3 linked regions of the Homo sapiens genome follow. The protein of the gene in region 1 interacts with the protein of each later gene in a pairwise test. Each region holds a gene or a part of one and is shown in the gene's direction. Other genes may lie near its edges.

Region 1 (7,084 bases):
GAAGTAGTCCTTCCCATACCGCTGTGGTGGCTCCTTGATGTTGTCTGGGACTGATGTTCTTTATTTGACCACAGAATGTTTTCCTCATTGTTGGCTAAAGAGTTTCTTCTCTTTAAACTTAAGAACTAGTTGATAAATTTTAGATTCCTATTGTGAAGGGTAGTACCACACTTTAAAATTGTTGACAGTTTATTTTCTTTGTCTTTTAGTTCATCTTGTTGATATCTGGAACATGATTGAAGCCTTCCGAGACAATGGCCTTAATACACTGGACCATACCACCGAGATCAGTGTGTCCCGCCTCGAAACTGTCATCTCCTCCATCTACTATCAGTTGAACAAGCGCCTTCCTTCTACTCACCAAATTAGTGTGGAACAATCTATCAGCCTCCTCCTCAACTTTATGATTGCTGCATATGACAGGCTAGTAGTACCTTACCTTACACGCTTACTTCATTTTAAGAACACCTGTCTCTGAATCATTCTTCTTCCATACTGCCGTGCTAAGTTGCCTTGCTAAGCTGGCAACTTAGAATCATGATTAAAAGGGAAATTATTGGCTGGGCACGGTAGCTCACAGCTGTAGTCCCAGCACTTTGGGAGGCCAAGGAGGGCAAATCACAAGGTCAGGAGATGGAGACCATCCCGGCTAACACGGTGAAACCCCGTCTCTACTAAAAATACAAAAAATTAGCCGGGCGTGGTGGTGGGCGCCTGTAGTCTCAGCTACTTAGGAGGCTGAGGCAGGAGAATTGCTTGAACCCAGGAGGCAGAGGTTGCAGTGAGCAGAGATTGCACCACTGCACTCCAGCCTGGGCGACAGAGCGAGACATTGTCTTAAAAAAAAAAAAAAAAAAGGAAAATTATTCGGTGTAAGCCCCTCTAGAAACTGGTTCACAGTGACTTACTGTCCTAGAGTATGTCATATATTAAACTCTGGAATATTGTGGAGAATCACATTTGAGATGTATTGTTTGGGAAAATTATAGATACCTTAATACAGCTGTCCTCCAGCTCATGAAAAACACTAAGTTTTGAATTTGATTATGGGGCTTTCTATTTGACTTCTAAGTCTCCTCTTTCTTTTTTCTTCTATGCCTAGTTTGTTCAGAAGGCTAATCTTTACTCTGTAACATCAAATATTGGACTATAGTAACTGATTTTCTCTCTTTTTTTTTTGAGATGGAGTTTCTCTCTTGTTGCCCAGGCTGGAGTGCAATGGTGTGCAAGCTCGGCTCACCACTACCTCCACCCCCCGGGTTCAAGCGATTCTCCTGCCTCAGCCTTCCAAGTAGCTGGGATTACAGACATGCGCCACCACGCCCAGCTAATTTTGTATTTTTAGTAGAGACAGGGTTTCTCCATGTTGGTCAGGCTGGTCTCAAACTCCCGACCTCAGGTGATCCGCCCACCTTGGCTTCCCAAACTGCTGGGATTACAGGTGTGAGCCACCACACCTGGCCAAACAGATTTTCTCTTTATGTCTAGGAACCTATTTTAAATTTTTTCATTGCAGAACATAGTTTAGTAGATCTTGAAACAAAAGAAGAAAACTATTTAAATGTACTCCAATTAAAACGGAAATGATTTGCTGCACTTATATTCGTAGAGAATTGAGTTGGTATTGTAAAGAATGAAACAACAAAATTGTAAAGCACAGATTTATGATTGTGGAAGTACAGAGGTTAAATGGTGATGTTCTGTGAACCAAGAGTTCCAGTTTCTGCTATACTCTTGGCCATCTGATTTGAATGGATTGTCTCTGCTTCATTTTTTGCTGTCTGTAGACCTTCTTTGAGTTCATACATTTGTAAAATGCTATTAGTTATATCTTATAATAGGGAGGAGTCTGTGAATTAGTGGTAACACTATGGAAATGTCAAAGCCAAGTCATAATTTAAGCACTCACTAAATTCACACCATTTTTATAAGCCGTTATCAGATTAGACATTGTATCCGTTTAATAGAAAATTATTAAAGAAATTTACTTATTTTTTTGAGATGGGGTCTTGCTGTGTTTCCCAGGCTGGTCTAACTACTGGGCTCAAACAGTCTTCCCTCCCCAGCCTCTCTAGTAGCTGGCATTACAGGTGTGTACCACTGTGCCCGGCAGAAATCTGAATTTTAAAAATAAGAGTGTGTAAGTGTCATAAGTCCCAGAATTCTAATGCCATTTTTTAGTAATTTTAGTTAGTGACTCCATAGGTTAATTTTTTCCTGCTCAGGAACTGTCTTTTTGTTTCAAAACCCTTAGTAAAAATTGTTATTCTGTAATAAGTAAGCAGCACCTTATCATGACACTGACTCACTCAGTAAACCAATTCATGGGTCACACAACACAAATTAACTCAAGAAACAATATTTTTTAAAGTCAGAAATTAAAACCATCTTACTGTCTAAAAATGGTCAAGCAGAGATTAAAATCTTGGATTCCATAATCATGTCAAGTAAGTTAAATACTATGGCGCTTTAGTCTACTGGGCTGCTCTAACAAAATGCCATGAACTGGACTCTCTATAAACAACACAGATTTATTTCTTACAATTCTGGAGGCTGGGAAGTTCAAGATCAAGGTAGATTCTGTGTGTGGGGAGGGCCTCCTTTCTGGCTCCTAGACGGCACCTTTTTGTGGTATCCTCACATGACAAAGGGGCAAAGGAGTTCTCGGGAACCTCTTTTATAAGGGCACTAATCCCGTTCATGAGGACCCCCTCGTGACCTAATTATCTTCAGAAGGTCCCACCTTCTAATACCGTACCTTGGGGGTTAGGATTTCAACATGTGAATTTTGGGGAACACAGGCATTCAGGTTATAGCATATGGCTAAAGAAGGGAGAGGAAGGAAGAGGGCAGAGATGGCAAAAGGGAGAATGGGAGGACCAAACTCAGAAGCAGAAGGTACAAGGATATCCTGGGCCATATTCCGAGAAAGCTAGACACATACAGAGAGACGAGAATAAGTGGACAGTGAATCAGTTGAAGGCAGATGTGTAGAAACACACACCGAAAATAACTAGCAAAAAAAAAAAAAAAAAAAAAAAATGAGTGAGTTAAGAAGAGTAAGGGGTATAGTATGTTATTAGTGAGTTGGGTAATTTTTACTTTGATGTGTTTAAAACATAGACCATGGTATCAGAATAAATGATCACATCTTTACTAACTTTGATACCTTTATATAATAGAGCTTATTTGGCTATCTGGAAGCTTAAAATTGACCTTCTTGTGTTGGAAAAAAAGAAAGAATCTGGTTATCAGAATGTTAATTTTGAAAACCAGGGCATTTTGTCGTTAAATACTTCAAATGTTAGTCTTTTTATTGATTGGCCGCTTTATTACTTAGGCTGGAGAGTTCCTTTTATACATAGACAACCTAGTTATTTATTTTAATTGAGGCTTCCAGCCTTTGTATTTCATAATTCCATAAGGTTAAAGTTTGAAAGCAAAAATTATTTAATCTTCTCTCACCTCCAAATTTATAGTCCCTGTGTTTGGCCAGATGATTTCTGATCATTATAATAAGAGAGTATAAGACCCTACAACAACGGTCAGGAACAAATAGGATCTAAGACTTTTCCTTAAGTATTTTCTTAAGACCTAATTTTTTTTAATACTGAGAGTTCTGAATATGTTATATTTTGATAATTAAAAACATTGAAAAGCACAGAGACCAATATTCACAAAACACCTGGGTGTAGAATCTTAGTGAAAGCCACAAGGAGTTGTGAAAACACTGATAGCTGCATTTTTTTCCTCTCAGTTTCTCCGGTACAATGTTATTGGTAGTCATACAGTCTGGTGCAAAGGTACAACAAAGGTGCTTTAACCAATATAATAACGATATCCAAATTCCCAGCATGAGATAGAGGAGGTCTTCCTTACTCTTCTATAGCTGAGCCAGTTTCACACTTTAAGGTTTGTTACTTAAAAATCCCCTTTCTATTTCCAACCTTTGTGTTAGTCCAGTGTCTTTAGCTGTAAAAAGCCTACCCACATGGCCTTTTCATAACAACATGTGTATAGGCTGACAAACTGAGGGGTCCAGAGGCAGGCCAGCCCCTCATCTTGGTTGCATCAGAGCTCTGGCTTTATTTCTTTGCGCGGCTTTGCCCCCTTCTTGTATCAGCTCCATCCTTAGGCTGACTTCACAAAATCCCTGTGAGCAGCTTCTACTAAATGCCTCCTCTTTGAAGTTGAGGTTAAGGAAGAGTTGGCTTCTTTGAACACCGAGCAGAAGTACCCATCTTTTAGACACCCATGACACAGCCTCAGGAGGTCCTGACAATGTGTGCCCAAGGTGGTCAGAGCACAGCTTGCTTTTATACATTTTAGGAAGACATGAGACATCAATCAGATACGCTTAAGATTTACATTGGTTTGATCTGGAAGGGTGGGACAACTTGAAGAGGGACAGGGAGCTTCCAGGTCATAGGTAGATTTAAACATATTCTGATTGGCAGTTGGTTGAAAGAGTTATGATAAAGAGTTGTGGAGAGCTAGGTTTTATCACACAGATGAAGCCTGCAAATAGTAGGCTCTAGAGAGAATAGACTGTAGATGTTTCTTCTCAGACTTAAGGTCTGTGTTGATGTTAACACTGGAGGGTATCATGAGGCATGTCCATCCCCAGCTTCCCATCATGGCCTTAACCAGTCTTTCTGGTTAAATTTCAGAGTGCCCTGGCCCAGGAGGGAGTCCACTCAGATGGTTGCAGGGGGCCTTTGAATTTTATTTTTGGTTTACACTTACAATCTAATATCTAGATTTCCTGTGGTTCTTTTTGTACTGTTTGTTGTTTCTGGTTTTCATTAATGATGTTTTATTTCCTATTTGCTTTGTTATTTTTTATTATAGGCTGAACATTATATAGCAAAATTATTTTTATTATATACCAAACATTATATTGCAGAATTATTTGCAGGGATAATTTGAGGCCTAGGATGATGTTTTCTTCAAGAAAGGATGTGTGTTTGCTTCTTCCAGGTGCCTGGAGACCTTAACAATCCAGGATCACGTCAATTCAGTTTCTTAATCAGTACATGTGAGGACCTGTTTACTTCTGGACACGATTACCTTTAGGTGAAGCCTTTGGGCTCTGAGCCCAAACTAATAGGAGAGTAGGGTAAGCAGGACCACGTGTCCTGCCAAGGGACCCCTTCTGCCTTGGCAAGTCCAAGCCTCCATGTCTTTCTCCTTGTCCCCAGTACCATCAAAAAGTTACTCTATACTTCAGCAATTTTGCTTCCCCCTCTGGAATCAAATCACTTACATGGAAAAAGTGATTTCATCCATTGCACTCACCTCCCTGGACATCCAGCCTCTCCTGCATTTGGTAACTTCAGTTGTTAGTTCTCAACAATTTATATTCAAGGAGATTTTTTAAAACTTTCCCCATCTTTTCTTTTTTGCTCAGAGGAAGAGTTGATCAGAATCACCTAGGGTGCTATTACCAGAAGCTCATTATTTCTTCAAATATTTCCTCTGTTTTTGTTTTCTCGTTTTCTGATTGTTGGCATTTCTACTTCTTTCCTCTTTATCTATTAGTGTTCCTCACATATGGTTTAATTTCTTTAACTTTGTTTCCTTTTGGAAGAGTTTATTGATCTGCCTTTCTGCTCATTAATTTGTTCTTCCTCTGGAGCCATCCTACTGTTTATTCCATCTGTTATTTCTTTAGCTATTATATTTTCTATATGTAATATATCTGATTTTTCTTTTTTGGGATTTGTGGTTCTTGTTTCGTATTGTCTTTTTAAACATGTTTATTCTTAGTTTTAAATTCTTGGTCCATTTGTTCTAGGACTTATGCTTCCAAACCTGGTGTATGTTGTTCTGTTTTGTTTTGTTTTTCTAAGTAGTTGTATCCCTGTGTCTAAGGACTAGCCAAGGAGTGGATGTTTGCTGAGAATGTGGGCAGAACTTGGACATGTGGGCTAGAGTGTTCACATGCATGCATAGTCCTTTCAAGCATGGGATGTGCTGGAGGTGGGAAGAAAAGGGGATCAGGTTCTTCCCACGTAGGAGTATGGGGTGCCTTACAGTTCTAAATTTGAACATGACATTTCTGGCCATTATAAAGGTATGTTAGTCAAGGTACAAAGATGGAAATAAATACATATATTTATTTATTTTTCTGTCGTCCAGGCTCTAGTGCAGTGGCACAATCTTGGCTCACTGCAACCTCCACCTCCTGGATTCAAGCGATTCTCATGCCTCATCCTCCTATTTGGGACTACAGGCATACGCCACCACGCCTGGCTAATTTTTATATGTTCAGTAGAGACGGGGTTTTGCCATGTTGGCTAGGCTGGTCTCAAACTCCTGGCCTCAAGTGATCCACCCGACTTGGCCTCCCAAAGTGCTGGGATTGAATACAGCCATAAGCCACTGCACCCGGCCAGATTGCTCTTATACTTTATTTCTGACTGTTGAATCTTATTTTTTCCTCTGATATATTTCATCCATTTATGTTTTACAAATGAGTCTGTGGCCTTTACCAAAAGTGTTGGTTCAGAAATAGAATGAAATTTCACCTTAAAAATGGAATAAACTGGTAAAAAAAAAAAATGATGTATCTAATGAAACTAGTTTGGACAAAGTCTGTAAAATACATCTAAATCTTAAAAAATACAAAATACGGTATTGAACACATCATTTAAAGGCCTAGGGTTATTGTTTACCATCTACAATAACACTCAGTAGAAAACATTCTTGCTAATTTGAACAATCGAAAGATTCCTTTGGTGTAAAGATACTTATATAATTTATAATAGAGTTATATGAAAAAATTCCTGTGTAGTTTGCAAATGTGGCTAACAACCATTTAAAAATGTTGGTTTAGGCTGGGTGCAGTGGCTCATGCCTGTAATCCCAGCACTTTGGGAGGCTGAGACAGGCGGATCACCTGAGGTCGGGAGTTCAAGACCAGCCTGACTAACATGGAGAAACCCCATCTCTACTAAAAAAAAAAAAAAAAAAAAAAAAAAATTAGCCAGGCATGGTGGTGGTGCATGCCTGTAATCCTAGGGAGGCTGAGGCAGGAGAATCGCTTGAACCCGGGAGGCGGAAGTTGCGGTGAGCTGAGATC
Region 2 (7,561 bases), on another chromosome or scaffold:
GTTGCGCCGAGCCCTGCAGCTGTGCCCTTGTGCCCGCCACTCCTCACCTCGGCCGCTGAGCAACCTCCTGCTCTGCACAAAGCCTCCGCACATGCCCTTCCAGATGCAGTTCCCTCTGCTGCCTCAGAGTGGGCACCTCTCCTAGCTGAAGCCCACTCCTCCGCCTCACCTAGGCTCAGGTGGAATCTGTCACCTCCCTACTCCAGCACTAAGGTGGACGCTCTGTGTGGTGACTGCTCTGTTAATTATCTTCCTACCAAAAAGCCACGTGCGCCACACTCCCATGTCTAGCCCCCGGGTGGCACAGAGCCAGCCGCCCCTAAATGGAACTAACAGGTTCCCTAGAAGACAGAAAGCTGGCCCTCATTGTCCTTCTGAACTTCAGCCTGAATCAGCCTCTTCTGAGAGATGAGAGCAGGGAGGAGCCATTGCAGCTGAACATGCCTAAGACAGTCACTTCCCGCTTCTTCTTGAAACTCTGGGCCCACGGATGGACAAGTCCCTTCACAGGAAAACAGCAGAGACCGGTGGACTCTGGCCCTGGGCTGAGAGTCTTCATTGCTGCCTGGAGCAGGGCAGGGATGTCGCCACCCTTAGTGTCCTCTGTCCCACAGAGCCCAACAGAAATTTCATCCTTCCTTCTCTTGTATCCCTAGAATCCAGGAATCGCCTTCAAGTAGCTTATAGACTCAAAAGGGATCAGGAGAGACTGATTTAGAGAGGGCTTTGTGCCCTGAGAGTGACAAGAGAGCAGAGTCTGGTTCCAGCTGTGCATTTGGAGCTCCCCTCGGGGGAAGGCCAGTCCTCACGAGGTCTGCCAGGCCCAAGGGCTCTGCCGCAGCACCTGCCCTGCCCTGTCTCTGATGTCATCTCCCACCCATGCTCTACTCCCTGCCTGCTGCATTCTGGCCTCGAGGCATCCATGCTGGCCCCTGATTGTGGCAGGCACGTTTGTTGGCCCAGGGCCTCTGCACTGACCCTTTCCCTAGAACACCCTTCCCCAAGACACCACAAGACCCCCTCCATCGTCTCCCTCAAATCTTTGCTAGAAAACCACCTTATTAGCGAGGCCAGCCCTGCCTACCTTGCCTGAAAACGTGCACACTCTTCCCCTCCTCTGCCATTACTTCCAATCCAAGTCTACAATTCTGTTTTTCTATCACTCACAATATTGCTTATTTACTTAGCGTATTTGTCGGTCATCGTCTGCCTGCTTTCCTCTGCTAGATTATCAGTTCTCAAGGGCGAGGTCCTTCATCTAACTTGTTCACTAACATTTCCCAAGAGCCTAGAACAATGTCTGGTATTTAGTGGTACTAATACGTATTTATTGAACAGATGAATAAACGAATTGGGAGAAATTCTGAAAGAATATTTTAAGTTTAAATCTTTTATTTATTTATTTATTTATTTATTTATTTATTTATTTATTTTTGAGACAGGGTCTTGCTCTGTTGCCCAGGCTGGAGTGCGGTGGTGCAATCATGGCTGACTGCAACCTTCAACTCCTGGGTTCCAGCAGTCCCACCTCAGCCTCCCAAGTAGCTGGGACTTCAGGTGTGTACCACCATGCCCAGCTGAGTTTTCTTTCTTCTTCTTCATTTTTTTTTTGTAGAAGTGGGGTCTCACCATGTTGCCCAGGCTGGTCTCCAATTCCTGGGCTCAAGCAATCCCCCTGCCTCGGCCTCCCAAATTGCTGGGATTACAGGTGTGAGCTACCATGCCTGGTTGGGCATTTTTCTTGACTCATCTATTTCACAGCTTCCTGTAGGATTATAAGAGGCAATGTCTCATGCATCATGCACCAACGGAAAGAAAACTTCTCTGTAAGGAATCAAAGGGAAGAGAGAACCTCTAGGTGGCCTTGCCTTCTCTGGCCCACCCAGATCCTCCCACCATCACTGGGTTTCAGTGTGCCTGACACAAAAGGAAGTGCCATCAGAAACACCAACACAGTGCCATCTTCCCTTTTGAGTAGTGTTTCTTGATGTTTCTCATTACAAAACGATTCATTGTAGAAAACGAATGCAGGCTTACAGAAGACATTTTAAATCCTCCATTATCCTGCAGCCCAGAGATAACGACAGCTAATATTTGCATACACTCTTCCAATCTTTTTTCCATGCATACATATGAATTAGATATTGGAATGAGAAGTTTCATAATGTACACAGGATTTGGTGTCCCAGTCTTATTTACTTAGCGTTAAATCGTTAGTATTTTTCTATATGATCAAATAGCTTTTGAGAATATTATTTCTATGGCTACATACCATTCTGTGCTAACTCATTTATTTGACCACTCCATATGATTTCACTTTGGAGTTGAGGCTACTCCAACCAAGACTGCTCTTCCTCCTCCCCTTCCTCTTTCCTCTGGCCCACTCTCCTCCTGGTCCCCATCACTGATTACCCTCCTGCCCGCAGACAAATGCCAGGCAGAATGGGAGCCACAGGGCAAGACACCACCCTTGCCTTGGACAGGCTGCCTGTCCATTTGAGGCATGCCACAATTCCCCCATGAGAAAGCATCTGCACTCCCAGAAATAGAAGCCATAGGTCAAACAGGGAGCCAGGAGGTAGAGGTGGGACAAAGCATTTCCAGATGGGGCTGAATGGCCCATCCAAAAAGATCTTGGAGCATTCACCACGTGCCAGGGCCATGGGCACACCAGTGAGCAATGCAGCCAACTAGGGCTCAGCACCGGGGCTGTGGTCAGAAACAGCCAGCACCCAGAAGGATGCTTTATCCCCAAGTCCAGATTGAGGCTCCTGCTTGCAAACATGGTTCATGCCCTTCCGGAGCCTACTGCCTCAGAGGGAGACACATACTAATCAAATAACCTCACAGGTAAACTTGGAATTATAACTGGTCCATGAAGGACATAAGGCAGGGGGCTGCCAGCACCTGTAACCTGGGGTTCCCTTAGGAGGCAGAGCTGCAGCAGCCTGTCGGGAGGAGCAGGTGCACAATGGGACTGGAAGAGGGTCTGTTGTCTGGGGAGCAGGGTCTGTGCAAGACAAGGCCCTAGAGACGGACAGAGGCCAGCCAGGCCCCTGCAGCCAAGCTAGCTGTTAATCCTCAGAGGACTGGGGGCGTTGAAGGCCTTTAAGCAGAAGCAGCTGAGACTGGATTTCCATTCTTAAGAGTTTCCCCTGTTTGTGGAGGAGTAACTGGCTTGGGAGGCGCTGAGAGAGGGTAAAGGGAGATCAGTATGGAGACTGCGTGCACGCTTGGACCCGGGTGGCAGGTCCCAGAACTGGGTAGGGCAAGCTGCTGGTGGCTTGGGTAGGGACAGTGGCAGCGGGCAGGAAGAAGGAAGGAGTGATGTTTAGGAGCTGGAATCAGAAGATCTGGATCAAGGCTGTGACTCTCCAAAAGATGCTTGTTAATACACCCGCTAGCTTAGGACCGTTCCCTCATTAGCATGACTAGGTCTGTACTGGCAAGATGTCTCCTTAGACGACGTCCCTCAGAGGACCTTCCAGTGAAGGTCAGAAAGGAAGGGAGTAGGTCAGGGCTGGATGCGGAGTTGCAGTGAAGGACGCGGGCACCAGAGGGCAGCACGAGTGTCTCGGGCCCCTGCAGGGGCTAAGACCCCACAGAAGGCCCGACCAGCCGCGCACCTGCCTGGAGCCTGCGCCAGTCACTTTGCAGCCCCACCACTCAGCTTCGCGTCTGGCCATGTAGGCGGCGCCTGCGCGCACGCCCAGGGCTATCGTGAGAATGGCAGACTGGAGCCCTTTGAAAGACGCTTCCAGCCCCGGGCATCTAGGAAAGGTGCTTGATGAGGTCTGGGGTAAGAGACCCCCATCCAGTAACCAGCCTTGGGGCCTCCAGTGTCTGGCCTGGGCCCCTCGTCAGAAGCTGGGACTGGTCCTGAAGACCTGCGGTCCGGGCAGCTCGGGCTGCTGTCCTGCCTGTGCCTTAGGGTTTGCAGCTCTGGGCTCTGATGCAGCAGGGACTGGGTCTTAGAATCTAACGACAGCCAGAGGTGGCCGATGCCGCGCCCCTGGCGGGACAGACACCCTGTGGTTAGTGGGGCAAACGCTCGCGTCTTTGCACCTCAGTTTCCTCATCTGGCAGCCAGAGATGCCTACACTTGCCCTGCTGGGTCGTTGGGGGGCGTGGCCCACGGTAGGCGCTCGCGGGCAGTCGTGGCCGCGGGTCCTATGAACTCCTGCCGTTTGGGGGTGGGTGAGGCCCTGGGCGTGGGGTCCCCCTGCGCCCTCCATGCGGACAAACTTCTGACAGTGGCGCAGTCACGTTGCCACAATTGGGGGAAACTGCCTTGGTTTCGGGTTTAATGAGAAAATGGATGTTTGGGTTTGGTTTCATCTGGGGTTTGGCGAAGGCATGTAGTTCCTCTCCACTCGCGGGGGCTGCCCGGGCCGGTGAACCGACAGGGCGCTAGGACCCGGGGCGCGCTCGGACCCGGGGCGAGAACGCGAGGCCGGGATCGCGGTGAAAGGCTCGCGGCGGAGAGCTCGGCCGTCGCCAGGCAACCGCCCTGACGCAACGCAGGGGGAAAAAAAAAGTCCTTTCCGAAAGGAGCAGCGCCGAGAATTCACCGGAGCTCGGGGAGGCGAGGCGGGAGCCCTGAGCTGAGGCCGGGCAGCGCGGACCCGCGCAGGAGGAGGCGGCGGGGACACCGGCGAGTCCCCAGCAGGGCCCCTGGGCTCCCGGAAGGTGGGTTCGCGCCGGCGGCGGGGACTTTCCCAGGGACTGGGAGGTGTGGCCGCGGCGGGCGGCGCAGTCTGGGCAGGGGCTGAGGCGTCGCAGGTCCCCAGCGCGAGCACTGGCCCGGAGCAGCCCGATCCCAAAGCGCCCTGGAGGGGACGCGCTCCTACCGCCCCCCCGGGAGAGGCCGCTCATGCGCTCCCGCGGGTTCGCTGCCCTCCCAGAGGAGCCGGGCAGCCAGGGCTGGACTTCATCTCCTAGCTCCCTGCTGGCCGTGTCCGGGCTCGGATTCTGGGTGGAGGTTCGGGGTCTGCCGTCTGAGAGGGAGGGCCGCACTCAGCCTCTCCGGGTCCACTCCCAGGCGGCTGGTGACCTCCAAGCCCAGCCTGGCTCCTGTGTATAGGTTCAGTGAGATGGAAGTTTCTGTCCCCACGGATGCGGTCCCTAACTAATGGGAGGTGGCCCAGGGCACCTGGACCCAAGGGTGCTCTAAGGACCCAAGCCAGTGTGACCTGAGGGAACGGCACAGCCGCAGGGGCCCCCGGGAATGAGCAGGTCAGCCGTGAAGGTGGGCACCCTGAGTCACCGAGACACCGGAGCACAGACGGCGGGGGGGAGGGTGTCTTCTTCAGCCAAGTTAGGTTGGATGTATAGGTTTTCTGCACACCCGTTACTGCCTGGTTTTTATTCCCGGCGGGGCTTGGAGGGAATTCTGAGGACTGGGACCTCCTGGGAAGATCTGGAAGGAGGGTTGACTCTAGGTTGGGGGCTGGCCACTGCCGTATGCCTGCAAGCAGGTTCTCCCAAGTCAAGTTTCCACAAACTCCCCGTCATTGCTGGAGAATCCCAGAAGATGAGATCACGTCCTATCCACAGGGTTTTCACCAAGGGGCACATGCTCCAAAGCAGCTTCCCACTGACACAGTAGACACAGTCCTGCCCCTCACTAAGCTCGGGATGGAGCGTGGAGAGCGTGGACAAAGTCTTGGGAAAGCAGAGGTGCTGTGGCGCCTGTTGCCTGAGGGCGTTGGCAGGATAGGAACTTCTGCAGCGTGTTTTTAAGGAGCTTGGAAAGCAGCCATGGGCTGTGCTTGGAATGGATAAAGATGACAGCTCTTCTTTCTTGAGTGCATTTATGGACCATGCACTACTTAGAAACCCTTCGCATCCCTTGGTCACTCCATCCTCCCCATCAGTCTTCAAGGAGACTCTATTATCCGTTTTGCCAATGGGACTCTAAGAAATTGAGTGACCTGGTGTGGCTCCCACACCTGGTGAGAGAGCAGAGAGTCAGCCTCACGTGCCTGACTCCCGGGACAGTGCTCTCAGACGAAGGCTGCTTTGGGAAATCTGAGGCATCTAAGGCCCAGAGAGGGGCAGAAACCACTCACGCCCAGATGAAATGAGAACTGTGTCGTGGGGCTCATCTTATGACCTGAGAAGGTCCCCTGCCTGCTTGAGGAACCCTGTGGAGCCAGGAAAGCCATTTCTTCTATTAGGAGCTTGCAAGGCTGTGTTGTTGGGCCTGGCCGGCCTCAATTCTTCCCACCTGAAGCAGAAGAAAGGGTTGCTCCCCCACACCCTGTTCTCCTCCTTGCCTGCCCAGAGCCCCCAGACTCCCTGCGCACTTGCTCCTGTTCTTCTGGTCCTCGCAATTACATGCATGGATTTCTACTAAATTGCCAGTCCCCGCCTTCCTGTCTACTAGCTTGGCCCCCCTCCAGGAGGAACTCTGGCAGGGAAATAAATTAAGGCCATGCCTAACTATTTGCTGAGAGAGAGCCACAGAGCCCCAGGCCAATGAGGAAGAAACTACTTGCTAGGCTTCTCACACCCTGGCTGCTGTGTTCTCTAGGCAAATCTTGCTCACAGAAAGCCCCGTTGGCCCTACAGGAGCCCCGGTATTCCCAGAACCCTTTGGGAGCTGTGCTTTCCCAAGGGACTTGAGCTGCTTGCAAAGGCGGAAAATGAGTAACTGAGCACTTTGCTCCTGGTTTCCAGACCAGGGGTGGGAGAGCACGCACGTGCCACTAACTGGAAATCCCTTAGGATTAGCCTGGCTGGCTGTTACTGTGCAAATGCACCCCGAGACTTGGATTGCCATGTGGAGACAGGAAGGAAAAGCACAGACTGAAACAGACCTTGAGGGGCTGAGGATGGGCTACATGGTGGGCAGGGGGAGGTGGGGAGCAGGAAGGATGGGACAGGGTGGGAAAAGAGTTTAGGAGGGGCGGCAGGTGAGCCTCACTGGCTCTGCAATCACCTGTAGAGTCTGAGCTGCCACCGAGGGCCGTGTTGCCAGGATGAGTCAGGTAGGCCGCAGGTCTCAGCTTTTCCCTGGTTAGGACCGTTGCCCTGTCCATTAAAGGCCAACTCTTCCCCACCCTGACCCCTACCACTTCTCTCTGGAGAAGTGTTGGAGAGGAAGGACAAGCATGGAGAAAGAAGGTGAGCAGAGCAGTTCAAGGGGGGCTGCTCCCACCTCACCCCCTTTCCTTCTGCACACTGCCTGCCTGCTCATCTCTGCCAGGCAGCATCAAATCTCATCCATCAGCCACTCTCGAGAGGACTTTGCTGAGCAGTAGCCCAGTCTCCCTGTGGGCACAGCCGTCAAGGGGGCCTCTCTTCTCTAGCAGCAGCTGTCTAGCGTCAGGCTCCTCTCCATGCCAGGGCCCTGCCACGTGGCCTTAGCAAGCACATAGTAGCTCCCCCCAAGTTGTCATCTATAGTGGGGGGTGGCTTTGCTCCCCCACCACAAAGCTCTCTTCACTGAGGAATTTCCAGAAGGTCCCTCGGGTGCCCATAAGTGTGATCCTCCTCCCCAGCGGCCTTTGCAGAAACCTGAAGAGGATGAGGGTTCACCTTCTCCCACTGGGGGCAT
Region 3 (7,000 bases), on another chromosome or scaffold:
GGGAAGGTTTTGTGGAGAAGGTGGGGTTGAAACAGAGGCTTAGAGAAGGCCCCACACAGCAGCTCATGCCTGTAATCCCAGCACTTTGGGAGGCCAAGGCAGGTGGATCACCTGAGGTCAGGAGTTCGAGACCAGCATGACCAATATGGTGAAACCCCATCTCTACTAAAAATACAAAAATCAGGCCGGGCGTGGTGGCTCACGCCTGTAATCCCAGCACTTTGGGAGGCCGAGGCAGATGGATCATGAGGTCAGGAGATCGAGAGCATCCTGATGAACACCGTGAAACCCCATCTCTACTAAAAATACAACAACAACAACAAAAATTAGCTGTTAGCTGGGCATGGTAGTGGGCGCCTGTAGTCCCAGCTACTCAGGAGGCCGAGGCAGGGGAATTGCTTGAACCTGGGAGGAGGAGGTTGCAGTGAGCCGAGATCACACCACTGCACTCCAGCCCGGGTGACAGAGTGTGACTCCGTCTCAAAAAAACCCAAAAAAACAAAAAAAACCCTAAAAATTAGCCAGGCGTGGTGGCCCACATCTGTAATCCCAGCTACTCGGGAGGCTAAGGCAGGAGAATTGCTTGAACCCGGGAGGCAGAGGTTGCAGTGAGCCCAGATCACACCTCTGCACTCCTGGCTGGGTGGCAGAGTGAGACTCTGTCTCAAAACAAAAACAAAAAACCAAATAGTCTTAGAGGAGTAGTGGGATGGAGAAGTGTTATGAGCAGAAGGCTCTGCCGCAGAGAGACAGAAGTTGAGAAGGGCAGGGTGGTGACGGTGGAGCTTCAGGAACCAGGAGCAGGGACTTGTGGGATCCAAGGGAAGGCATGGGATTGGGGCGGGGTGGACTAGGCTAAATGCTGCTGGCAGGGCAGGTCCATAAGCGCAGGTCCTTGAGGCATCCCCAAGGCACTGCGGCTGTCCCGCATGACCTCCCAGGGACTCTCCTTGCAGCTGCGCCAGGGCCCCGCGGGGCTGGGGCCCAAAAAGCGTGCGGAGCCTCAGCTGGTGGAGACCCAGAATGTGCGGCTTATTGAGGTGGAGCGCAGTGTGAGTGTGGGCCCACAGTGGGCCCTGGGGAGGTGCCCCGTGCAGTGTGAGTGTGGGTCCACGGTGGACCCTGGGCTGGGGGGTATCCCGTGCAGTGTGAGTGTGGACTCACAGTGGGCCCGGGGGTGGGGGTGCCCCATGCAGTGTGAGTGTGGGCCTGTGGTAGGCACTAGGGGGTGCCCCCGCCACCTGGCTATTGCTAACCCCCACTTCTGGGCAGAATGCGATGCTGGTGGCAGAGAAGGCAGCTTTGCAGGGGCAGCTGCAGCACCTGGAGGGGCAGCTGGGGAGCCTGCAGGGCCGTGCCCAGGAGCTGCTGCTGCAGAGCCAGCGGGCGCAGGAGCACAGCAGCCGCCTGCAGGTGGGTGGTGGCCCGGGTGCCCATCCCTGCCCATGTACTGCCCCCTCCTGCTCCTTTTGGATCATCCTGTGGCCTTTTTCTATCCCAGCTCCCAGCCAGCTGCCCCACCTCTTCCCCAGTCTCATTTATCCTTGTCCTCTGACCCCAGCCACCATTTTGCACCATCCTCCCTGCCACTATCTCCTCCTACCTGCCGCCAGCCCCCACATCTACACCCATGTCGCCCTGCGCTCTCACTGTCCCAGCCCTCCCCTCCACAGGGCGCCATTAGTCCCATTCTGCCCTGTGCCCCTTCCGGACAGCCTGGCCCAGCCAGCCTCTGCCGCCTCTCCCCTGCTCACCATCAGCCTCTGGCTGGGGCTTGTACTGCCTGCTGTGCCCCCAGCCCTTTGCCTCCTCCACAACTCTCTCATTGTCTTGGGCCCTACCGTCTGCCCTTAGCCCCCCGCCTCTCACTCGATTTCCAGCCAGGGGTTCCTCCCCAGCAGCCCCTGCTTCCCTCCTCCATCCTAGGCCGAGAAGTCTGTGCTGGAGATTCAGGGCCAGGAGCTGCACCGGAAGCTGGAGGTGCTGGAGGAGGAGGTGCGGGCGGCACGGCAGTCCCAGGAGGAGACCCGCGGGCAGCAGCAGGCCCTGCTTCGGGACCACAAGGCCCTGGCACAGCTGCAGCGGCGGCAGGAGGCCGAGCTAGAGGGACTGCTGGTGCGGCACCGAGACCTCAAGGCCAACATGCGGGCACTGGAGCTGGCCCACCGGGAGCTGCAGGGCCGGTGAGCATCACCAAATGCCCAGCTCCTCCCCTGGCACCCCCTATCTGCCAGAGAAGACTCCCCTCAGCAGGTCTGACTCCCCATCAGGAAGCACCTCCACCTCCGCTCTGTGATGCCCCGGCCACTGCTGTGCCCTCTGGGGTAGCTGTGCTCCCCACACTTCTGGGTTGGGCTCCCCGTGGGGCTCACCTATTGGGAGTGGTGGGCACCTGGCATGGCATTCTGCCCAATGGCTTCCTCTGGGGGACCTAGGCTTAGGAGGTGACAGACCCCCCCGCCCCGGGTCCAGATAGTCCAGCCAGCTGCTTGTGGTGGCCATAGGTTCACACAGCCCTCTTAGCCCCTTGTCCATCCCAGGCACGAGCAGCTGCAGGCCCAGCGGGCCAGCGTGGAGGCACAGGAGGTGGCCCTGCTGGCAGAGCGTGAACGCCTGATGCAAGATGGGCATCGGCAGCGGGGCCTGGAGGAGGAGCTGCGGAGGCTTCAGAGCGAGCACGACAGGTGCCGCCCCTGCCACAGCCTCTAGCAGCTCTCAGTGGCCCCATCCTGAAAGTGGGTTGGGGGTGTGGGGTCCTGTCTGGCCTCCCCTCCCCGGCATAACTTCTCTGGCCAGCACTCGGACTGGGGACCCAGGTCCCTTGGAGAGCAGCTCTCCTTGCCTCCCAAGGGCTCAGATGCTGCTGGCAGAGTTGTCTCGGGAGCGGGGTGAGCTGCAGGGTGAACGCGGGGAGCTACGGGGCCGGCTGGCGCGGCTGGAGCTGGAGCGGGCACAGCTGGAGATGCAGAGCCAGCAGCTGCGCGAGTCCAACCAGCAGCTGGACCTGAGCGCCTGCCGGCTGACCACGCAGTGTGAGGTGTGGCTGGAGGGCCGGTGGGGGTATGGGCGTGTGGTGGGGCAGAAAGCCTAGACCCAGGTGGTCCTGAGCTGGGTCCCACCCTCCGAGCCATGGTGCCCCCCTGCCAGCTATTGACACAGCTGCGAAGTGCCCAGGAAGAGGAGAACCGGCAGCTGCTGGCTGAAGTTCAGGCCCTGAGCCGGGAGAACAGGGAGCTCCTGGAGCGCAGCCTGGAGAGTCGGGACCACCTGCACCGCGAACAGCGGGAGTACCTGTGAGTGGGCCGCCTGGGAGCGGGGTGGGGCCTGCATCCCCTTTGGGCGTTCCTGGGGAGAGCCCTTAGTGAGGGCCTAGGGACAGGGTTGGAGCTGACCTTCCAGGTCAGTCCAATCTGCGGCACGGGACCAGTGCGTCCTCGCTGCAGCTTGTGCCTTGCTACTGCCTCGGCCTCCCTGGGCCTCACACCCACCTCTCCCTTCTCACTCCTGCCAGGGACCAGCTTAATGCCCTGCGCCGCGAGAAGCAGAAGCTCGTGGAGAAGATCATGGACCAATACCGCGTGCTGGAGCCTGTGCCCCTGCCCCGGACCAAGTGAGCAGCCCTGTCACCTCCCTCAGGCTGGACATCCTGCTAACCTCTGCCCCTGCCCTGGCCTCTGACCCCAGGCCCAGCTCAGGTCCAGGCCCCATGAAGGTCAACCTGGCCTTTGACATCCCCAGGACACCCTTTGCTCCCTCCCTCCTCCCTGTCCTGACCCCCTCTTGTGCCCTCTTGCCCCCAGGAAGGGCAGCTGGCTGGCAGACAAGGTGAAGAGGCTGATGCGGCCCCGGCGGGAGGGGGGCCCCCCTGGGGGGCTGCGCCTGGGGGCCGATGGGGCTGGCAGCACCGAGAGCCTGGGGGGCCCCCCGGAGACGGAGCTTCCTGAGGGCAGGGAGGCAGATGGGACAGGTGGGTCTGGGGGTCAGGTGGCCAGGATGGTCCCTGCCCCACATCCTCTGTCCCCCACCTTGGCACCTGCCTCACTGCCTGGCCTGCATGCGTGACCCCATTGGCCTTCCCTGAGGCCTGCCCCCCCTGCCCTGATGCCACCAGGGGCTCTTTTCCCTGGGTCCTACAGGGTCACCCTTGGCCCACACCTCCCTCCTGCCTGTGCTGTCCCCGACCCAGCCTGCCCCATCCGCAGCGGAGCCCAGGATCTGGGAGGTGCAGTGGACTCTAGGGAGAGGTCATTGTTCCTAGACTGCAGATGAGGAGACTGAGGCCCCGGGAGGGGAAGCTTTTGCCCAAGGTCATGCAGTGAGTTAGTATGAAGGCCAGCACAGGGCCAGTGTCCTGCTGCCCCACTCATTTGCCTGGCTTCTCCCCCACCTCTGCACCTCCCCTCCCTGGCCCTGGGCAGCTTCACCCACTGGCCCCTCTACTCCATCCAGGGCCCTGTTCCTCTGACCCCCTCCCTGCATGAGCCTCCGCCCCCCCCCTCTGACCCCTCCCCTGCATGAACCTCAGCCCCCTCTTCTGACCCCCTCCCTGCATGAGACTCAGTCCCCGTTCCCTTCCTCTGACCCCCTCCCTGCATAAGCCTCAGCCTCCCCCCCTCCTCTGACCCTCTCCCTGCATGAGCCTCAGCCTCCTCCCCTCCTCTGACCCCCTCCCTGCATGAGCCTCAGCCCCCACTTCCCTTCTCTGACCTCCTCCCTGCAGGAGCCTCAGCCCCCCCGCTCCCCTCGTCTGACCCCCTCCCTGCATGAGCCTCAGCTCCCTCTCCCCTCCTCTGGCCCTCTCCGTGCATGAGCCTCAGCCCCCACTTCCCTTCTCTGACCTCCTTCCTGCAGGAGCCTCAGCACCCCCTCCCCTTGTCTGACCCCCTCCCTGCGTGAGCCTCAGCCTCCCCCCATTCTCTGACCTCCTCCCTACAGGAGCCTCAGCTCCCGTCCCCTCCTCTCACCCCCTCCCTGCATGTACCTCTTGCAGGGTCCCCTTCCCCGGCACCCATGCGCCGGGCCCAGAGCTCCCTCTGCCTGCGGGATGAGACCTTGGCAGGCGGGCAGCGGCGGAAACTCAGCTCAAGGTTCCCGGTGGGGCGAAGCTCTGAGTCATTCAGCCCTGGGGACACCCCTAGGCAACGATTCCGACAGCGCCATCCAGGCCCCCTGGGGGCGCCCGTCTCCCACAGCAAAGGTGAGGGACAAGGGTCACTGTACCAGCCAGCCCCCCAACTCTTTGTGGACCCACCAGCTCCTTGGGGGAGGAGGCTTCCTTCTTGTCCCCTGTGTCTCCTGCAAGCTCTGTCCACTTCCGCACTGGCCCTGGGCCCAGTGGTTGCCTTGTGCCTCCCAGGACCTGGTGTGGGATGGGAGAACTCCGCTGAGACCCTGCAGGAACACGAAACAGATGCCAACCGAGAGGGTGAGTGGGGGACTGTGGAAGGAGTAGTATTCTTTGTCCTGCCTGGGGCCCCTGGCAGAACCTCATTCATCCATTCTTTCATTCGACAATGATCCTTTACCAAGTGCCAGGTGACGTGCTGGCAGGGGACACAGCAGGGAACGTTCTGGTGTGAGGAGGCAGATAGTAAACAATTTGCCTAAAAATAATTATTATCTACAACAGCCCTGTCCACTAGAAATATGGTGTGAACCACATGATAATTTTAACTTTTCCAGTAGGCTTACCAGAAAAAGTGAAAAGAGACAGGTACAATGGATTTTAATAACATTTAACTCAATATGCCTACGCTATTACCATTTCAGCATGTAGCCAGTGTAAAAATCATGAATGAGCTATTAGACGTGATGTTTTTTTTTTTTTTTTGAGATGGAATTTCACTCTTTGGCTCACTGCAACCTCCTCCTCCCAGGTTCAAACGATTCTCCTGGCTCAGCCTCCCAAGTAGCTGGGATTACAGGCATGGGCCACCACGCCAGGCTAATTTTGTATAATTATTATTATTTTTTTTAGTAGAGACGGGGTTTCACCATGTTGGTCAGGCTGGTCTCGAACTCCTGACCTCAGGTGATCCGCCCGCTTCAGCCTCCCAAAGTGCTGGGATTATAGGTGTGAGCCACCCAGCCAGACGTGATTTTTTTCATAGTAAGTCTTTGGCAGTTTCGGAGGCCAAGGCAGGCAGATCACTTGAGGCCAGAAGTTAGAGACCAGCCTAGCCAAAATGGTGAAATCCCGTCTCTACTAAAACTACAAAAATTAGCCAGGCATGGTGTCCCATGCCTGTAATCCCACCTACTCAGGGGGCTGAGGCAGGAGAATCGCTTGAACCTGGGAGGCAGAGGGTGCAGTGAGCCAAGATCACGCCATTGCACTCCAGCGTTGGTGACAGAGTGAGACTGTCTCAAAAACAAAAAACAAAAAACAAAAAAACATAGTAGGTCTTTGAAGCACGTCACAGGCCAACCCCATCTCACCTACTTAGCTCCGCCCTGGGCAGCTCAGCCCTAGACCCGGCTGGACCATCAGGAGGCGCTAATGCTCTGGGAAGAAAGGAGAGCAGGGGAGGGGTCAGGAGCTCAGGAGCTCTGGGCAGGCTGGTTGGAGTTTTAGTAACTGGGGTGCTGGGGTGGGCCTCAGAGAGGATGTGAAATTGGAGCAAAGACTTGGAGGGGAGAGTTTGTCGTGTGGACATACCTGAGAACAGCATTCTGGGCAGAGGGAACCGCTGAGGGAACAGCAGGCGTGGTGCAGCTGGAAGCGGGGGGTATTGGCAGGTCGGGGGTGGGCAGAAGGTGCTCGAGCCTGTGGGCCTCCTGGGACTCTGGGAGTCCTCCTGAGGGAAGCAGATCTCAGCTGAGCCTTTCCCTCTAGGCCCTGAGGTACAGGAACCGGAGAAACGTCCCCTCACCCCATCCCTCAGCCAGTGACACCGTGGGAACAGCAGGCTTGGGAGTGCAGCCTTCTCGGCACTGGAGTGTCAGCGGAGGCCCCAGGCAGCCCAAGAGCTCAGGGAGCCAGGGACCCCAAGGGGAGTCC

Evidence for each region.
Region 2: the proteins of DTNB (region 1) and FAM167A interact in binary tests that used the Homo sapiens proteins (3 or more experiments, as listed by UniProt).
Region 3: the proteins of DTNB (region 1) and CCDC88B interact in binary tests that used the Homo sapiens proteins (3 or more experiments, as listed by UniProt).

What each region holds. Positions count from the first base shown.
Region 1 is NC_000002.12:25,621,510-25,628,593, reverse strand, and holds part of DTNB (dystrobrevin beta), read left to right. Parts: intron 1-209; coding exon 210-423; intron 424-7,084.
Region 2 is NC_000008.11:11,463,754-11,471,314, reverse strand, and holds the start of FAM167A (protein FAM167A), read left to right. Parts: upstream 1-4,561; 5' UTR 4,562-4,689; intron 4,690-7,561.
Region 3 is NC_000011.10:64,350,204-64,357,203, forward strand, and holds part of CCDC88B (coiled-coil domain-containing protein 88B), read left to right. Parts: intron 1-956; coding exon 957-1,052; intron 1,053-1,272; coding exon 1,273-1,413; intron 1,414-1,926; coding exon 1,927-2,183; intron 2,184-2,540; coding exon 2,541-2,684; intron 2,685-2,850; coding exon 2,851-3,037; intron 3,038-3,147; coding exon 3,148-3,293; intron 3,294-3,511; coding exon 3,512-3,610; intron 3,611-3,800; coding exon 3,801-3,967; intron 3,968-4,990; coding exon 4,991-5,197; intron 5,198-5,356; coding exon 5,357-5,425; intron 5,426-6,835; coding exon 6,836-6,891; 3' UTR 6,892-7,000. UniProt on the Homo sapiens protein: Acts as a positive regulator of T-cell maturation and inflammatory function.